2 linked regions of the Homo sapiens genome follow. The protein of the gene in region 2 interacts with the protein of the main gene of each other region in a pairwise test. Each region holds a gene or a part of one and is shown on either strand. Other genes may lie near its edges. The genes, in order: NPFFR1 and ATP1A3.

Evidence for each region.
Region 1: the proteins of ATP1A3 (region 2) and NPFFR1 interact in binary tests that used the Homo sapiens proteins (3 or more experiments, as listed by UniProt).

The regions. Positions count from the first base shown.
Region 1 is NC_000010.11:70,258,797-70,268,565, forward strand, and holds part of NPFFR1 (neuropeptide FF receptor 1), read right to left. Parts: intron 7,596-9,769; coding exon 7,281-7,595; intron 1,944-7,280; coding exon 1,844-1,943; intron 1-1,843. UniProt on the Homo sapiens protein: Receptor for NPAF (A-18-F-amide) and NPFF (F-8-F-amide) neuropeptides, also known as morphine-modulating peptides. Can also be activated by a variety of naturally occurring or synthetic FMRF-amide like ligands.
Region 2 is NC_000019.10:41,989,277-41,998,818, forward strand, and holds the start of ATP1A3 (sodium/potassium-transporting ATPase subunit alpha-3), read right to left. Parts: upstream 4,955-9,542; 5' UTR 4,801-4,954; coding exon 4,795-4,800; intron 4,192-4,794; exon of another isoform or gene 4,156-4,191; coding exon of another isoform or gene 4,117-4,155; intron 3,951-4,116; exon of another isoform or gene 3,932-3,950; intron 1-3,931. UniProt on the Homo sapiens protein: This is the catalytic component of the active enzyme, which catalyzes the hydrolysis of ATP coupled with the exchange of sodium and potassium ions across the plasma membrane.

The sequences.
Region 1 (9,769 bases), on a different chromosome or scaffold from region 2:
GTTTGGAGTCAGAGCCTGCCCTGGAACATAGGTCTAGAGCTGACTCTCAGTCAAGTGTCCTTTCCACTTCGCTACACTGTGTCCTGCCCTCCTGCCAACCCAGTTTTTGGCCTGATAGCCTGACCTTTTACCTCTCCCACAGCCTGACTCAGGCCTTGTTATCTCAACCTATATGACTTTGACCTACTGGCTTCATACTTCACATACTCAAGAAAGCTCCAGAGAATAGTGGCTTATGTCAGCACTTTGGGAGGCTGAGGAGGGTGGATCACTTGAGGACAGGAGTTCGAGACCAGCCTGGCCAACATGGTGAAACCCTTCTCTACTAAAAAGACAAAAATTAGCCATGCATGGTGGTGCGCACCTGCAATCCCAGCTACTCCGGGGACTGAGGCACGAGAATGGCTTGAACCCGGGAGGCAGAGGTTGCAGTCAGCCAAGATCGCCATGGCACTCCAGCCTGGGTGACAGAGCAAGACTCTGTCTCCCCCCTCAAAAAAAAAAAAGAAAGAAAGAAAGAAAAAGAAATCTCCAGAGAATAAATAATTCTTAAAGCCTGTAGTGCTGGCTATGAATGCAATAGCAGTAAATGGGTGGAGGAGAATCTTGGGGTAATCTGGGCAGGCTTCCTGGATGAGGTGGGACTTGAAGAATACTGCAAACACCACTGGGAGAAGTTGTACACTCTCATTTCCTTCAACAATGATAACAAAACAAAGGTCGATGAAGGGAAGGGACTTCTCCTGATCACCCAGCTAGTTAGTGGCCTTGTGGAGAGTAGAACCCACTTCATTACTCCAGCTGCCTACTTCACTGAGTTACAAAAAACTGGGCTTGAGGTGGAGAGAGGATGTGAACACTAGATTCCACAAAGGGCAGGGTTAAGATATGCCTGTGCTGGGGAGAGAACAAGGAGGAGGGGATGGGTGTGCAGAAGAAACAACATACTATTAGCAACTGATATTTGGACTCTATGCCAAGAACTGTGCATAAGCTTTTACAAGCAGGAGCTCACTGAAGCCTCCCAACCATCCTGTAGGGTAGCTACCATTTTACAGATGAGACTACAAGGGCTCAGAGTAGTTAGGTGACCCACCCAACATGATACACCAAGGCAGGAGTGAGCAAATCTCCAGCTGATCTGCCTGCCCACCTTTCCCTGGGGTGAAGCACCCAGAGGGTGCCCTTCCCCTGCTAACAATGCTGTGGGGGAGGAGCACTCATGTAGTGCAATATGGAGGCCTCCTGGGTTCAGTGCTTTATTGATTGCAAGCCTCCTTCTCCCTGGCTCTGCTCCATACCTTTGGCCACATGATAGATTTATACTTACCAGGGAATCTGATGGAATATGAGGCTGAGAGACGAGAAGCGGTGAACGTGGGGATTGAGTACAGCCTGGGCTGCCGGGAACCAGCAAGGAGCCAGTGGGGACAGAATAAGGAGCAGGGAGAAACCCTTCCTCCCCAGCCATACCGTGACCCACCCATAAGCTGGCCCCCTTAGCTCTGGCTCACCTGGCTCAGACTTAGAGGTGGCAGGATTCCTGCTGCTCAGGAAATAAGGACTGCTCTTGAGCTCCTCACAGGCCCCAGGAATCCCAACAAAAGCCAACCAAGGCTACCTTCAGGCCTTCCAGAAGGGGGTGGTAGTGTCCTCATCAGGTTCCCCAAGTTTAGGGAGAGGGCAGCTGGGCCCAGGGCCCTTCTCCTTGTGGCTCAGGATTTAGCCCCACTTACCATGGTGCAGCCCCAGCCTTCCAGCCAACCCAGCATTAGAGGCAGTGGCTCCTCTTAATGCCAGGCCCTAGTTGGCTCAGGCATAATCCAGCCAGGAAACCTCTCACCTTTCCACAGCAATGGCCACCAGTGTGAAAACGGAAGCCGACACAGACATGCCCTGCACCAAGCCGCTCATCTTGCATGTGGCATTGTCGAAGGGCCACCCTGCAATGACAGAGGCCCCCACAGAGTGAGAGATGCCCACGCATCAAGAGCCAGAGACTGAAAGCCCTCCAAGCCAGGTCCCCTCTGAGCTTGGATCTTTCCTCCATGACCTGCTAGGTGTTATCTGGTCTCTGCTTGCAGACTTTCAGAAATGAGGAACCAACCAGCCCATAAAACCATGGACAGTTCTCACTACAGTCATCCCCTCGTTTATACAGTGCATTGGTTCTAGGACCCCCAAGTATTCCAAAATCCACACATAATCAAGTCCTGCAGTCAGCCTTGCAGAACCTGTGTATAGAAAAAGGCAGCCCTCTGTATGTACATGGTGATATGGTTTGGCTGTATCCCCACCCAAATCTCATCTTGAATTGTAGCTCCCATAATCCCCACGAGTCATGGGAAGGACCCATGGGAGGTAACTGAATCGTGGGAGTGGTTTCCTCCATGCTATTCTTGTGATGGTGAGTAAGTTCTCATCACGAGATCTGATGGTTTTATATGGGGCTTCTCCCTTCACTCCGTTCTCATTCTTCTCTCTCCTGCTGACTTGTGAAGAAGGATGTGCTTCCCCTTCCACCATGATTGTAAGTTTCCTGAGGCCTTCCCATCCCTGCAGAACTGTGAGTCAAACCTCTTTCCTCTATAAATTACCCAGTCTCAAGTATGTCCTTATAGCAGCATGAGAATGGCCTAATATACACGGGTTTTGCTGTATTTTTAATCTGCATTTAGTTGAAAAAAACCCTCATATAAATGGACCCATGCAGTTCAAACCCATGTTGTTCAAGGGTCAACAGTATTAGTGAGATTTTCTTTATGTTGACCAGTGATTTCTTTCCATGAGCTTTAGACCGTCCAGCCCTGCCTGGCTCTCTGCTCCCATAGCCCTGTCTTGGGTTCTAGGCCAGTGGTTCTCGACACTGGCTGCTCACGAGAATCATCTGGAGAGCTTTGCAAAGAACAAATGCTCAGACCCATGCCAGGCCAGTTACAATCAGAATCTCTAGTGACAGGACCCAGACATCAGTTGTTTTGTTTGTTTTGTTTTGTTTTGTTTGAGATAGGGTCTCGCTCTGTCACTGAGGCTGGAGTACAATGGTGTGATCATGGCTCACTGCAGCCTCAACTTCCTGGCTCAAACCATTCTCCTGCCTCAGCCTCCTGAGCAGCTGGAACCACAGGCATGTGGTTTGCAAAAAGCAAAGTATAAAGACTATCTGTACTATATTACCCTTCATGTGAGAAAAAAGAGATTAAGAAAATATATGGTTATTTTCTCATTGTACCAAAGAAATACAGAAAAGATAAATCAGAATAATGAGATTAGCTATCCATACAGAGAGAAGATAAGAACTGGGTAGAAATAATGGATGAATGGGATAGGTGAGATAATGAGAGTGATGCCTCTCTGAGTATATCTTTGTATGGTTCTGACTTTTTAGAATCATGGCAATGAATCACTTACTCAAGATAAATAATTAACATCTATCAGGATATGGTTGGGGAGGGGGGACCCAAAGTAAAATACAAACATTAACAAATAAGTCTAATTATATTACAAATGAATAATATTGTATTTAAATTGAATAATATTTACACTGAAGGGGTGAAGAAGGAACACACGAACTGGAGTAACTTTGCAAAACAGTATTTTGACTGTATACTATAACAGCAAAAAGAACTGTATACAAATTCTGTACTGTCATTACTAAACTTGTATATTCTTGACAAAACTGAATAAACTGGATTTAATTATGGGAAAATATCAGGCAAACCCAAATCACAGAAGTATGTTAGCAATAATGAAACTACCTTATGTGTATACTAAGATTGAACAAATAAGTAAATATGTTGTAGATAAATACAGCTAGATTTCTCACTGTCTGAAAATGAAGTTACCATTAAGGAAGAGGGTCAAGTTAAAATGAATCTGTGACAGTGGGTTAGAATCAGAGGTATCAGTCTGAACTCATGTTAATACACATACAGATGGACAGATATAGAAATAAAGATATGTGTGTTAAATATTTCTGTTAGTATACGTATATTTCCTAGCTCTGTCCCTTGAGAGCACCTAGAAGAAATGACACCCCAATACCCATGAGCACACCTAGAACCCAGATCTTGGCTTCTAAATACTATTCTCAGCCAGGTGTAGTAATCCCAGCACTTTGGGAGGAAGAAGCAGGAGGATCGCTTGAGCCCAGGAATTCAAGACCAGCCTGGGTAATATAGTGAGACTCTGACTCTACAAAAACAAAAATTAAAAATAAAATTAGCCATACATGGTGGCGCATTTCTGTAGTCCCAGCTACTGGGGAGGCTGAGGTGGGAAGATCTCTTGAGGCCAGGAGTTTGAGGTCACAGTGAGCTATGATCTCACCACCGCACTCCAGCCTTGGTGACAGAGCAAGACCGTGTCTTTTTAAAAAGCAACAACAACAACAACAAAAAAGCCCCTGTGGAACTATACACTTAAAAAGGCAGATTTTAATGTATGTTAAATTATATATTAACAAAAATATTTAAATGTAAAACATGCACACATTCACAGCATATTTTCTTTTTTCACCCAGGCTGGAGTGCAGTGGCGTGATCTCGCTCATTGCAAGCTCTGCCTCCTGGGTTCACGCCATTCTCCTGCCTCACCCTCCCGAGTAGCTGGGACTACAGGCACCCACGACCACGCCCGGCTAATTTTTTGTATTTTTTAGTAGAGATGGGGTTTCACCATTTTAGCCAGGATGGTCTCGATCTCCTGACCTTGTCATCCACCCGCCTTGGCCTCCCAAAGTGCTGGGATTACAGGCATGAGCCACCGCGCCCGGCCATTCACAGCACATTTTCTGAGAATGCATACAAAAGACAGAAATATAACAGAATGGCTGCCTATGGGTCAGAGAAGAGATGTAGAGTGGAATAGGTATATAGAAGGAAACAAATAAACAAAAGAAGAGCTTTGCAACAGAGTGAAATCACATAGTGCCATGAACTGTAAACTGAATGAATGATTCAACCTTCTGTATGTGAGTTAAAAAAAAAACAAAACCAACACAAAACAAAACAAAAAGAAAGAAAGGAAGAAAAAGCTGGGCATGGTGCCTCACTCCTGTAATCCCAGCACTTTGGGAGGCTGAGGCGGGCAGATGGCTTGAACCCAGGAGTTTGAGACAAGCCTGGGTAACATGACAAAACTCCATCTCTACAAAAAATAGAAAAATTAGCCATTGGTGGTGGCACATGCCTGTAGTCCCAGGACCTGGGCCCAGGCAGGTTGAGACTGCAGTAAGCCATGATCGTGCACTGCGCTCCAGCCTGGATGACAGAGTGAGACTGTCTCAAAAAAAAGAGGCCGGTGTGGTGGTTCATGCCTGTAATCCCAGCACTTTGGGAGGCCGAGGCAGGCAGGTCACTTGAGATCAAGAGTTCAAAACCAGACTGGCTAACATGGTGAAACCCCATCTCTACTAAAAATACAAAAATTAGCTGGGTGTGGTGGCAGAAGCCTGTAATCCTAGCCACTCGGGAGGCTGAGGCAGGAGAATCACTTCAACCTGGGAGGCGGAGGTTGCAGTGAGCCGAGATCCCAGCACTGCATTCCAGCCCGGGTGACAGTGAGACTCCAAAAAAAAAAAAAAAAAAAAAAAAGAAAGAAAAAATAGTGAAGCTGTGTGAAGTTTTATTTAATTGCAGAAGATTCTATTAGAAACAACATAAATACAAATCAAAATAAATTGTAGTACATCCATACAATGGAATTCTAAGCAGTTGGTGAAAATAGTGAGAAACTCTTTTATTTATTAATATGGGATAACAACATGTAAGTTTATTTTAATGAATCTTTTTTACAGCATACATGGTATATTTTTAAGTGGGGTGTGGTGGGAAGTAAAAGTACGGGACTGGCTGTTTGGAACCTTAGCATGTCCTCAATTTGCTTGCACTCGCATAAAATAGTGTTTGAAAGAGACACAAGAAACTGGCAACACTGGTTGCCTCCCAGGAGGGAGAAGAGCTGGGAGGCCAGAGGACAGGGGCGGAAGGGAGATTTTTCACTGGAGAATTTTGGTAGTTTTTGACTATTGAATCATCTGAATGTTTTATGTATTCAAACAATATTTTAAATATGAGTGTATGAAAAAGATGGGGAGACGCCACCTTAACCAGCTAGTGACCTCATTATATCACTGTTGACTGGTATGCATGTATTTATGTGTATGCATGTGTGCATCTCTGCACATGTGTGCCTGAGTACACGTGTGTGTGTCTATGTGTTGGAAAGGAGAGGAATGCAGTTTATGTTCAGCATTGGCAAAGGAAGCTGGGACTCAGCAGTGGGTAACGGTTCCACCAGACAGAGCTGGTACTGTGGAGGGGAGCTGACTCTGCACTGGCTCCACATCCTGGGTCCTAGAACCTACAGAAACGTGGGCTGTGGCTCCCTCTGCCCCGAGTCAGTGAAGTCACTCTGAATAGGGCTGTCCAGGCTCTGGATCCTGAGGACCAGTGAGCTGCTGGGAGCTCTGAGCTCAGAATCTGCAGGCTCAGACCTCTAGGGGTCTCCATATCTCTGAAAACCAGTCCCTCACCTGGAGTCTCAGGTTGGTGGAAACTTGATTCTAAAACAAGAAAGGCCAGTCGCATGAGAGAGTAGAGAGTAGATGGCACTGTTCTGACATCTGCAGGATGCACCGGCAGGAATTTAGAGGTCAAGTGGTCCACTGAGTGGCCGGCCAGTCCCTGCTTAGACACTCCAAGGGACAGAGAGCTCATTACTTACAGGCAGGACTCTCTTCTGTGCCCTGCTCAATTTCCAGCTCAAATGAGTGGAGTTTTCGTTCCCGATTCAGAGGAAACCTGCCTCCCTTCCACTTCTCCCCACTGGCTCTAATTCTGCCCATGCGAGCTCCGTGAGAGAGTGGGACTGAATGGTATAATACAATAATTAGAAGTATGGGTGTGAGAATGTTGACCTTGACACCTATTAGCTGTGTAACTACAGACCAGTTTCTTAACCACTCCGAGCATGTTTCCTCTTCCATAAAATGGGGAGGACCATAAACTCTACTTCACTGGATTGTTGTGAGGATGAATTAAGATAATGCATGAGAAGTAACATCATGCCAGGCACAAAGAAAACAGGAAATTCATTAAATCTCTTATTTCTAGTCTAACTCTTCAGCCCCAAGACTGTCTTGAGAGTTCGAGACCACGGCATGGCCAAGAGGCCAGCCCAGCAATGATATCTGTCTTCTAAGCTTTGATTTCCAGCCTTATCTGAGAAGTTGAAGTGGGGGGTAGGGGACACTCCTGCTGCCAACTGCCCGCACTCACCAGTGATGAGGTTGTCCACAAGGGTGGTGGGCATGCAGAAGATGCCCACCAGCAGGTCACTGACAGCCAGGTTGAGGATGAACATGTTGGTGACAGTATGCATGTGCCGGTTCTTGAGCACGATGAAACAGACCAGGGTGTTGCCCACCATGCAGAGCAGGAAGATGAGCGCATAGGCCACAATGAACATGGCCGCCACAGGGGAGGTGTGCTGATAGTAGGAGGAGAAGGTGAGGTTTGTAGCCGGGGTGGCCTCAGTGTTAGTCCCATTCTGACTTAGGGGCCAACTGCTGTTGGGAGGCTGGGAGGGCTCCCCTAGGACCAAAGGAATATATTGGTCAGGACCTTAGGCAAAGAAGAGATTACCGATTTCTCACCACTAATGAGACCCTCTGTGTGCCAAACCTTAACCATGCCCTGGTCCCCCAAGCATGTCCCCAGCTCCAGTTGCAACTTGATGCACTGATCCAAGACTTTCAGCCTACAACCACTCAAACCCTGGTCTTGTACTTCATGCCCTGTCTTGCCCATAACTCATTCTCCAATGTTGGTTTTTCTTTATTAACTCCCCCATCCCATTTAGGTTCCAACTTTCTTGGCCCTCCTGTGTGCCCCAGAGGCTAACCTCTAAGTTCTGCATTGCCCTGGTTCCCTTGTCTTCTGGCTTCTAGCTGGGTTCAGCCAATGCCAGGCCCTGAAGGAGATGGGAGGGCAGGAGCAGAGAGAGAGGTCAGGGTGTTTGTCTTCTGATTCCCTTCCTGCCTGGCCCAATTCTTTCAGCAGCTGTTTTTCCCTATAGCCACAGCCTGCTCCTATTGGGTGAGTCCCCTTTCATGGCTCTAGCCCTCACCTGACTACAGTAACACTCTTCCCTCTCCTTGCACTCAATGGTAACAGCTTCCTGTGGTTGTGAGTCCCTGGGTGCTTCACCGTTTCTGGCTGGTTCTCTTAACCCTCTCTTCTTCCATTAAACTCTGTTCAGTTAAACCCTTTCTGAGTGCACCATTTGTTTTCTGCTGGGACCCAATTATTATACCCTCAAACTCTTTGATGTCGTTCCCCTTCATCTCCTCCATGGAACTTTAGTTGAGAAAGGCAAGAAGGCAGTAGAGAAAGGGAGAATGAAGGGGAACTGTGAACCAGGGCTAAGGAGAAGAGGCACATCACATTCAGCAGAACATCCAAAGCAGGGGCTCCTGCTCAACCTTTGCCTCCTCCCATCCCATGATCAGCTGTTCTGCCTGCATAGCATTTAACATAACACTTCCACATCTATTATTTTATTTAGCTCTCCGAGCCATCCCATGATGTAAGTCATTAGGTATTAGCCTCATTTGTTTTCTTTTGTATTTTTTTTAAACCCTCATTGAATTACCCTAAGGTGTTAGCTTCATTTGAAATGGAGGTCAGAAAGGTTCCATGACTTGCTCAAGGTCCTCCAATGATGCTGCAGCACAGCTGGCCCTGCTCTGTGTGTCTGTGAATTAGGACCAGGCTTTGGTGTGTGTTTCCCCAGGCTTGCTTCGAAGGGAAGGCTCAGTGTCCAACCACAGCTCTTCTGGGAAGTCATTAGTTGGGGTGACTCATGATGTTGTGTCATAAACTTTCCTCCTGAGGCCTATTCCAGGGGATGAAGAGTCCCTGTGGAATCTTTCTGTCACACCGAGAACTCAGCCACTGGCCTGGAGGCTCAATGGAGGCTGGGGGCCTGGAGGTTAGAGACCCTCAGAGGAGCAGGGCCAGCGAGCTGGCATCATCAGGGCTGCAGGGACCAGCAGGGGGCACTGCGGTGAGTGTTGGGATGGGGCAGAGGGACTGCGGCGGGAGGCGGACAACCTGCAAACTTCCTGTGCCCGATGAGAGATGATACTCCCAGGTTTAGGCCTTCCAAGGACTTCCAACTGTACTCAAACATCTTTATTTTAATATGGTAAATGTCAAACATGTAGAAGAGAGAATATTGTAATAAACATATACAAGAGTATAAAGTTTAATGAGCTGTTATTAGAGGGATCATATAAAGAACCCCCATGTATACATCATCTGCTTTCAACAGTTATCAACTCGAGGCCTGGAGTTGTTTCATCCATATCCCCACTTCTCTTTGGATTATTTTGAAGTAAATACCAGACATTACTTCCTTTCATCCATAAATGTTTCAGTTTGTACCTTTAAAAAATAAGGACTCAAAAAAACAACATGAAAAAATGTGGTTTCCATCATTATCAAACCTAACAAAATTAACAATTATGTAATTATATCATTAAATAGCCAGCATCCAGCAAAATTTCCTGATTGTTTCATAATTTTTTAAATAGTTGGTTTGTTTGAGTGTGGATCGGAGCAAGATTTCTGTTTCTATTACCTATTATTATGTTGTGAACCACCCCAAAATTTAATGGTACAGCACTGTGGCTTGGCAATCTGAGTAGTTCTTCTCCTGGTCTCTCTTGGGACTCTCGTGCAGCTGCTGTAGTTATCTGCTGGCT
Region 2 (9,542 bases):
CCCTCTCCCTGGCCCTGTCCAACCTTCCTACATATCTGTCTTTTTTTTTTTTTTTTTTTTGAGACGGAGTCTCGCTTAGTCGCCTAGGCTGGAGTGCAGTGGCATGATCTCAGCTCACTGCAAGCTCCGCCTCCCAGGTTCACGCCATTCTCCTGCCTCAGCCTCCCGAGTAGCTGGGACTACAGGCGCCCGCCACTACGCCCGGCTCATTTTTTTGTATTTTTAGTAGAGACAGGGTTTCACTGTGTTAGCCAGGATGGTCGCAATCTCCTGACCTCGTGATCCGCCCGTCTCGGCCTCCCAAAGTGCTGGGATTACAGGCGTGAGCCACCGTGCCCGGCCTCGTATCTGTCTTTTCTATGTCTCCACGTGTATCTCCATCTCTTTCTCCTCTGTCTGTCTCCCTTGATGTGTATCTCCAGGTCTGTTTTTGGCTCTTGGTCTTATTGCTTTGTTTCATCATCTCTCTGTCTCCTGTCTCTTTATCTCTCCATCTCTGTATCTCTGTCTTTGCAAGGCTGTTTCTCTCTCTTGATAGCTCTCTCTCTCTCTCTATCGCTCTGATCTCTTTATGTTGTCTCTGTCATTCTCTATCCTGATCCCAGTCTCTGGGTCTCTCTGCATGTGTCTTTCTATGATTTTGTCTCTCTCTGATCTCTGGTTCTTTGTCTCTCTGCCTTGCATGATGTCTGTCTCCATCTCTTGGCTGTGTCTCCCCAGGTCTGGCTGAGTTTCTGTCTCTCTGGGTTCTTATTTCCCTCTGAGTTGGCGTCTCAAGGATCAGTACTTTCTGTCTCTGTCTTTTTCCGTCTTTCGGTCTGTCTCTCTCTGTCATTGTGTCTCTATCTTCATCTCTCAAGCTGTCTCCTCTGGGATGCTCACATCTCTCCCTACCTGTCTCTTTTCCTGTTTCAACCTCTCTCTGTCTCTCTCTCTGTCTCTCTAATATCTCTCTCTGGGATCTGCCTATCTCTGTCTCTCTCCCACTCTCTCTCTCTGGGATCTCCTCTCTATCTCTGAATCTCTCTTTCTCTCTCACTATCACTAAGATCTCCTCTCTTTCTCTTTCTCTCTCTCTCTCTCCCTCTCTCTGTCTCTCTCAAATCTTCCGTCCCCCTCCTTCCCCATATATCTCTCATTCTCTTTCTCTCTCTCCCTCTCTCTGTCTCTCTCAAATCTTCCGTCCCCCTCCTTCCCCATATATCTCTCATTCTCTTTCTCTCTCTCCCTCTCTCTGTCTCTCTCAAATCTTCCGTCCCCCTCCTTCCCCATATATCTCTCATTCTCTTTCTCTCTCTTACTACCTCATCCTGGAATTTTCCTCTCTGTCTCTCTTTCTCCCACTGTCTCTCTCTGGGCTCTCCTCAATCTCTCTCTCTCTTTCTCTCTCTCTCTGTCCATATATATATATATATATATCTGTCTCTTTTTGTAGGATCTTCCTCTCTCTTTCGCTGTCTGTCTCTGGGATCTTCCTCTCTCTCTCTGTCTCTTTCTCTCACTTTCTCTCTGGGATCTTATTCTCTATTTCTGTCTCTCTGAGATCTCCTCTCTCTGTCTCTGGAATCTGCCTCTCTATCTCTGTCTATGTCTCTCTGTCTCTGTCTCTCTCACTGTCTCCCTCTGGTACCTTCCTCTATCTCTGTCTCTGCCTCTCTCTGGGATCTTCCATGTGTTGGGCCCATGGAGCGTCCTTAACAGAGGCTGGGCATGGCCAGGTTCCTGGAGGACAGAGCAGGAGAGTTAGAGGCAGAAGCCCTAGTCCTGGCTTGAACTGCGCATGGTGTGAGTCCCTGAAGTTCCAGTTTGGGAGCCTGGGCGGATGGGGAGGGCAGTGTCCGAGGCTGGTGGGAGGGGTGGGGCGAGGCTGGGTGCTGCAGGGGCCGCTGACAGGTCCCGCAGGCCCAGGGCCAAGCTGGGATCGGAGGCTCAGCGCGGCTCAGCGCTAATCTCCTCGTGACCTTGTAGAGGGCCTGAGCTGCCTGCTGTCTGCCCCCAGACCCAGAGGCTGAGTCGGAGGGTGGGGGTGTGCAGGGAGGGGCAGCAGCCTGGAGATCTGGGAGCCTCAAGAAGGGGTGCAGGGGGTGGGAGGGAGGCTTGGCCCCACGCCAGCCCTGCAGCAGCACTGCGTCTCAGATGCGGAGGCACAGAGGCTTGGGGGACGGGGAGACCATCTTTCCTACTGCCCTACAGTGCCGGGGTGGTCTCAGCTTTGCCCGATGGGGTAGACCCAGGATGGAGAGACATGGAGAGATGGAGAGATGTGGAGCTACAAAGGCCTGGGGTCAAGTCCTGTGCAGGAGGCCAGGAGAGGGGTGAGATGGGGGTCAGGAGAGAGAGAGGGAGAAAATCAGCTGCCCACCCAGAAACCTTAGTTGAAGGCTGGGAGCTGATGCTCGGGGCCCCATAAATGCTAAGGGCTGGGCCGGACTCTCAGATACTGAGAGAGGCTGGGGTCCTGGATCCCTGGGTCTGAGGGAGGAGGGGCAGGGGTCTGGACCCCTGGGTCTGAGGGAGGAAGGACTGGGAGCCTGGAATCCTGGGTCTGAGGGAGGAGGGGCCAGGGCCTGGACTCCTGGGTCTGAGGGAGGAGGGGCTGGGGCTGGACCCTTGGGTCTGAGGGAGGAGGGGCTGGGCCTGGACCCCTGGGTCTGAGGGAGGAGGGGCTGGGGCCTGGATTCCTGGTCTGAGGGAAGAGGGGCTGGGGCCTGGACTCCTGGATCTGAGGGAGGAGGGGCTGGGGCCTGGACTCCTGGATCTGAGGGAGGAGGGGCTGGGGCCTGGACTCCTGGTCTGAGGGAGGAGGGGCTGGGGCCTGGACTCCTGGTCTGAGGGAAGAGGGGCTGGGGCCTGGACTCCTGGATCTGAGGGAGGAGGGGCTGGGGCCTGGACTCCTGGTCTGAGGGAGGAGGGACCGGGACCCTGGGACTCCTGGCTCACCCTGGCCCTGGCCTTGGCTCCTGCTTGCCCTTGACACAGCCAGACCCCCTTGGGGAGCAGGCTCCCATCTGTTGGAGTGCACAGCTGAGGCTTTCCCAGTCAAGGCAGGAGGCCCAGATGGGCGCGCTGCGGGGTGGGAGCACCTCCAAGGGTGGGGACCATGCCTGTCTCGCTGTGGCCGCCTCTGCAGCTCCTTGCCATTTTCCATGCTGTCCGCCTCTCCCTGATCTGGTGCCAGCTCCCGCAGCCTCTGCGCCTGGGCCGGCCTCCCTTCCCCCTCGCAGGGGACCTGGCCCACATCTCTGACCATCCCTCCCTTGACCTCCCCCTTTGCCCTCTGCCTCCTCTTCCTGTCCCTCAGGCTGACTGTGGTTGCCGCTAGATAGGAAATATCTGTCCTTGTGTCTCTTCCTCTGAGCCTCAGTTTCTCATTTTCTCTCTCAATGTCTCTCCATGTGTCTCAGCCATGTCTCTCTGCTTGTCTCTGTCTCTTTGTCTCTATGTCCATGTCTCTTTCTCTGTCTCTTTCAGAGCATCTCTGTCTTTCCATGTGTCTCTGTCTTTCCTTCCCATGTCTAAGCTGCCTTCATTTCTCCTCTCGTCCCCACTCCGTTTCCTAAGACCACCTCCCTCTAACTTCCTTCTCTAGGGCTTTTAGCATCAGTCTTCTCCCAATCCATCCACAGCTTCCCTCCCTCCATCCCACTTACCTGACAGCCATCACTGACTACCCCTTTCTCCCTTCTCTCCCCTAGTCCTGCCCCAACCCAATCCTCCTTCCCAGCCCCCCGGCCCACCCTGCCCCACCCCACAGATCTGCAGCCCCATCCCCCACCTCCATCCCTGGGCCCATCAGCCTTTATCCGCCATCTTTCTCCCCAGCCCTCCTATTCTCCCTCCACTGGCCTCTCCCGCCCTCTTCATCCCACCTACCCCCACCCACCCCCTCCTCTCCTGATTCCCCCTCCCTTCAGCCCCGCCCCAGACACACAGGGAGGAATCCAGGGCTGCAGCAAGGGTCAGGTGGTCAGCCAGGGAGGGAGGCGGCATCTGCTGGAGAGACTCACAGACAGACAAGGACACACGGACACAGAGGCAAGGACACAGCCAGGCATGCACGCTCCCCACTACACAGTTGCACACGCACACCCTCAGCTGTGCACTCAGTCTCCCCACCGTGGCTCTCCTGTTCCTCTCCTCCTCCCAGCCTCCCATGCCTGCTCCCCTACATGAGGGGCTGCACACACACACACTGCAGCCCCAGGCTGCGACACTGCGGAGCCTGCACACACACACACACACACACACACACACACACACACACACACACACACTGCGGAGTCCCCCCATCCAGGCCTGGAAGGAGAAAGAGAGGTCATCTGGTGTCCATCCCACAACGTGGACCTATCCGCACCCTGCCAGGGAAGCAGGGGGGCCTCAATAACCCCAGACGCACTAACACGAGCTCTCACAGACACACCCAGACGCGATCGCAGACTTTCAGACACCACGGGGCCCACACACTCGCTGCCAGGGCCTGACAGAGCCAGCAGCTCTCATACGCACATGCAACTGTGCACATGCAACCGCACAAGGTCAGGCGGAGATGCTGAGGGCTGGCCCACAACCTCGCGGATCTCCGCACACAAAGCCATGCCAACGTGCGCCACAGACCCCCCGCCGCCCCCTGCGGCCCCACGACCACATGGATTGGCTGGGTCAGCCGGCTCCCCGGGTCTCGCAGGCCTGGCCCCGGAGCGCAGGGGTCCCGGTGCCCCCGCCCCCCGCGCACACCCAATGTCACCGGCCCCACAATGTCACACGGAAGCGGCGCCCAGCCGGCTCAGCACCTACCCCCATCTTGGCGGCTCCGCGGCGAGAGAGCCAGGCGGGCGGGGCGGGGACCTCGGGGCGGGCTCAGGCTCAGGCTTGGGCTGGGAGCCTCTGCAGCGCCCGCGCCTCGGTAGGTGCGCGCGTCCGTCCGTCCGTCCGTTGGTCCCACCGCACAGAGGCTGCGGCGGCCGCCGCCTCCGCCTCCTCATATGCCCGCGTCCGCGGGAGGGGGGCGGCGCTGGCCAATCAGGGGCGCCGCCGTGCTGACGGACGGCCCGCGGCCCCGCCCCTGGTACTGCAGCTGTCCTCCCCTTGGGCTCCGCAAAGTGGCGGCGCGGCCGCGAAGGGGGAGCGCTGCGGGGGTGGGGGGATTCCCAGAGACCTCCGCAATAGGGGACTTGGAGACCCCCTCAATATGGAGTAGGGCCTCCAAGAAGGGGCGCTCAGGGAAAGAAAACCCCGGAAATCCTCTCATTGTGGGGGTGTGCCATCACCGAGAAGGGTACGCTGGGGGAGGGGGGGCGGGTAGTGACACGGGGTGGGAGGGAAGCCCGGTGAATCACTGCAGTGTGGCACCAGGGACCCTGGAGACGGCGGGGGGTAGTGCTGTTCAGGGAGAGGGCCCTGCAGGAGGGGAAGTTGGAAGGGAACACAAGAGAGCAAGAAAGGCCTTGCAATTGAGGAGGGGTGCTGGCGGGAGGAGCCCTGAGATTCCCTCACTGTGGGTGCCCCCCCACTACGCCTGAGCTATCCAATGAGCCACAACCACACAGGGTACACGGGAGACACAACACGGTGGAGGATGGCCCCAGGAGGCCCAGAAAATGCCCAGCGTCACAGTTACACAGGACCATCACACTGATAGCCCAGATGCTGGGGACACGCACACACCACAGGGTTGCACTCATATTCCACCATAGGCCAGCATGTACCCTCACACACACAACACCACCCCACCACACACAGAGTCTCAAACATAGAGTGAAACACACATAGGGCACACACCTTACACACCCATCACACCACAAGAGACTCATAATCACAGCCACAAAGTGCTGTGCGGACTAACACCGACACTCAGAAAATCGCAGACTCACACATCACACACTCTACCACACCTGACCTCCCACCATCTCACATAGAAACCCACATCGTGCAACCCATAAACCAACACACACCTGCACTCAGCACCATCACACACGCACAGGCCTCACACTGCCTCCAGACACACTACATCAGCCTTTGTGGACATCGTTGCATGATCCCACGATGTCGCACACATCCTCACACACACTGCTCCCCAGTGTGTTTGGGCATGAGCAACGGCCCACAGTGCAAAGTTGCCAATGCTAACTGTGAATGACAGACAAAAAGGTGCACACACTTACACATAGCACAATAATTCAAACACAAGTCACGCGACACCCACACACCTCCCACACATACACACATCACGTTATTGCAGCACTATCGCAGACATCTTTGTTGCACCTCCAAACACACCCCAACGCCCTCACCCACATGACACACAGAGCTCGTCACAGTATATGTACACACACAGATGCACAGCCGGCACCCACACCCCAGGCCTGCTGCCGACACACAACACCCCATCAGCCACCCCACTGGAGCCCAAGAAGTTGAGGCCTCCCCACTCACTCCAACACCACTTTGTTCTATGAGGAACACCCCAGACTCTCCCTGGGGATGGTAGAAGGGGAAGAGAGAGAGAGAGAGACAGAGAGCATTTGACCTTGTAGTTTTCTCAGAATGTGGGTATCCTCTCCACCTATGGGATAGGAGATGTGGGGGACGCAGGCAAGGGACAGGGAGTGAGCTTGGTGTATGAGGGTGGGTGGGTGAAGGTCGAGGACCTGGTGCAGGGAAATGTGTGAAAGGCTGAAGGCCAGAGAGAGGCACAGAAACACAGAGATTCAGAGCCACAGCATATGGACAGAGACAAGGCCAGAGAGTGAATGGAGGCTTTCCCCAGTGCCCAGAGCCCCATCCCAATCCTGTCCTCTGACCCGTCCCCATCTTTCTCGCTGTCCTTTGTTGCCATGGTAACAGGGAGCTGCTTCTGCAGCAAAGGAGGTTGGGCCTGCAGACTGGGCTGTTGCCATGGAGACTGGGAAAGGGGGAGGAGCCACATCTTTTAACCCAGATGCCTCACCCCCAGACGCCCCCTCCCCAACTCTGCCCTCTTCCTAGGGGAGGGAGAGCCTATCAACATATCCTCCTTTCCTTCTCTTGACACCTTGGCCTAGAGGCATGGGCCTGGACCATGGAGAATGGGACTGGGGAGATGGGGAAGCCTGGGGAGGTGGGGGAGGCCTGGATTCCAGGAGATTCTAGGCTCTGTCTGCTCTTGCTCTCCAGCTGGGCCGGGGGAGGCCTTGAGCCCTTCCCATCCCACCTCAGACACAAGCTCACGTCCCCCCTCATGCACTCTCTCCTCAGGCACGAGCCTGATGAGACTGATGACTGTGCATCGTGCTCCTGGTGAGGCTCTGCAGAAGTAGGGGGGGCGGTGAGAAGGAAAGACCTGGGAAGGTCACAGGGATAAAGGGGAATAGGGGAGCTAGATGTGAGAGGCGGAAGGAGAGACACAGAGGGAGAAACAGGCAGCCCAGAACCAGAGAGAGGCGGATACAAACAGATTGAAAAAGACAGACAGAGATTGGCAGATGCAGAGATGAGAACACGGAGACAGAGCAACGGAAGAGTTCAGTGAAGGTGACAGAGACAGAGAGACGTAGACAGCCAGGCAGAGACAGGCTTGGTAAACCAGGGAGACTCAGAGATAAAGGCCAGGGGGAGACTGAGCAGAAACCTGGTAGGGGACCGGGGACTCAGAAATGGGGGAGACCCCAGAGGGAATTGGCCTCGAGGCATTGGGACAGAGAAGGGGGAGAAACCAGAAATGTCTGTAATCATGTTCTAGTCACCTCGACAAAGAGTCCGACCCAAGGGCAGAGACATTGATTGGAGTGTGTAAGAGACGTGGAGATAGAGATGCGAGACAACAGAGAGAGGCTGGTGCCTGCCCCCACACCTGTCCGAGGGGCACGCAACCAGGGTCTGAGACGCAGAAGGGGACGGGTGGCGACGGGGGGCGCTGTGTGCGGGGAGGGGTCTCCCAGGGTGTGGCCGGCCTGCCAGGACTGCGCTGGGCAGGCGGGCCCTGGAGGGAAGTCGGGCGCTCTGGGCTCAGGCTGGCCAACTGGGTGCTGAACGGACAGCTCCCAAGCCCCGGGCCGCCGCCCAGGAACGGGCGCAGCCTCGCTCTCTCTGGGACCTTTCCAGTCAGGCTTTCCTTTCCGTTCCAGTCCCCTCCAGGTTCCATTTAGTTTTTTATGGCTTCCTGTCTCTCACCCCAACTCCGGGTGTATCTTACCCTCCCGCTTCACCTCTGGTCTCAGCCCTCTATTCTTTCTCCAGTCTTCTCTCACCTCACCCAGCCTCTCTCCCTGTCTCGCCGGCTCTGTGTCCTCTAGCTCTCTCTCCCCATCCCCCTCCCGCCCACTCTGCCCCCTTCGTTGTCTCTCCCCATCTCTGTCTCTCGCCATCCCTCCATCTCTCCCTTTCTGCTCGGCCTCGTTTTGGCTCTTGCTGTGTGACCTTCACTCGTCCTTCCTCAGCTGCAGTTTCCACAGAAACCTCCGGCGGGGCAGGGAGGGCGGGGACAGAAGGCGGACCCACCTTTCTCCTGCGCCATCAGCCCTTCAGCCTCTCCCACCCCTGCCCGCCCACCCACCCCCCAGTCTACTGGGATTCCTCACTTCCTCTCTTGGGGGTTGGGGAGGTACATTTTCAACAGAAACACGGGATCACAGCCACAGACAGTTGAAGATGGCCTCGCAGATGCGTGCACACACGATCACAACGTCACTGAATCACCCCGGCCCAGGCACACACTCGCCACCCCAGGCACGGCCACACTCAACAGCTCACTGGCCCTCCCCTCCCCCAGCCCCATCTGTTTTCTGTCTTTCTGTGTCTCCGCTTCCGGTGTCTCCGCGTCTCCAGATCCCTGCATCTCTCCATCTGTCTCAGGGTCTCTGTCGCAGCCTCCCTCTGTCCTGAGAGAAGGTCAGTGGAGAGGGGCCAGCTGCTGGGACCCGGGCTGGCCTGCAGCCTGTAGGCAGGGCTGAGGGTGGAGAGAGCATGGAAGTAACCATCGAGGCTCACTCTGATTCTCAGCAGGTGCCCCGGGGACCCAAGCCTCCAAAGCCCTCACACCCCCAGGAAATGAGAGACGGTATCCCCAGTTCTGGGGTTTTGTTCTTTTTTTTATTCCAACAGGGGCTGCGATGTGGCAAGGGGAGGGATGGGGGCCCAACTGACCCCCTCCCTGGGGGAGGTCTCATAGAAATTCCGAGGTTTCTCCCCCCAAAAAAGAGAGGAAGAGAAGAGTGGAGGGGCACCAGGGGACACCCATCTGTCCAGAGGCCCTCCCCACCTCCAGAAGCGTGGGGGGCTGCGTCAAGTCTTGGGGAGCCTGAGCAGTCCCAGAATGGGGTCCTCTCCGCTGACTGCTTTCCGCTTCCCAGAGCCGCCCCCGAAGTCCCCAGCCCCTGGAGTCCTCGGTTCCTGCGCCCTTCTCGCCCGCGGCACCCTCTCGCGAGTCCACTGGGGGGCGCAGGCGGGCTCCAGAGCCAGGCCTCGGACTTCGCGGGGAACCAAAGGCAAAATCGCGGCGTCCGGGGCGCCGGCGCACAAGTCCTGTCCCGCGCCCGCTGCGGGAGCGGAGACTGCTGGGGCCTGGG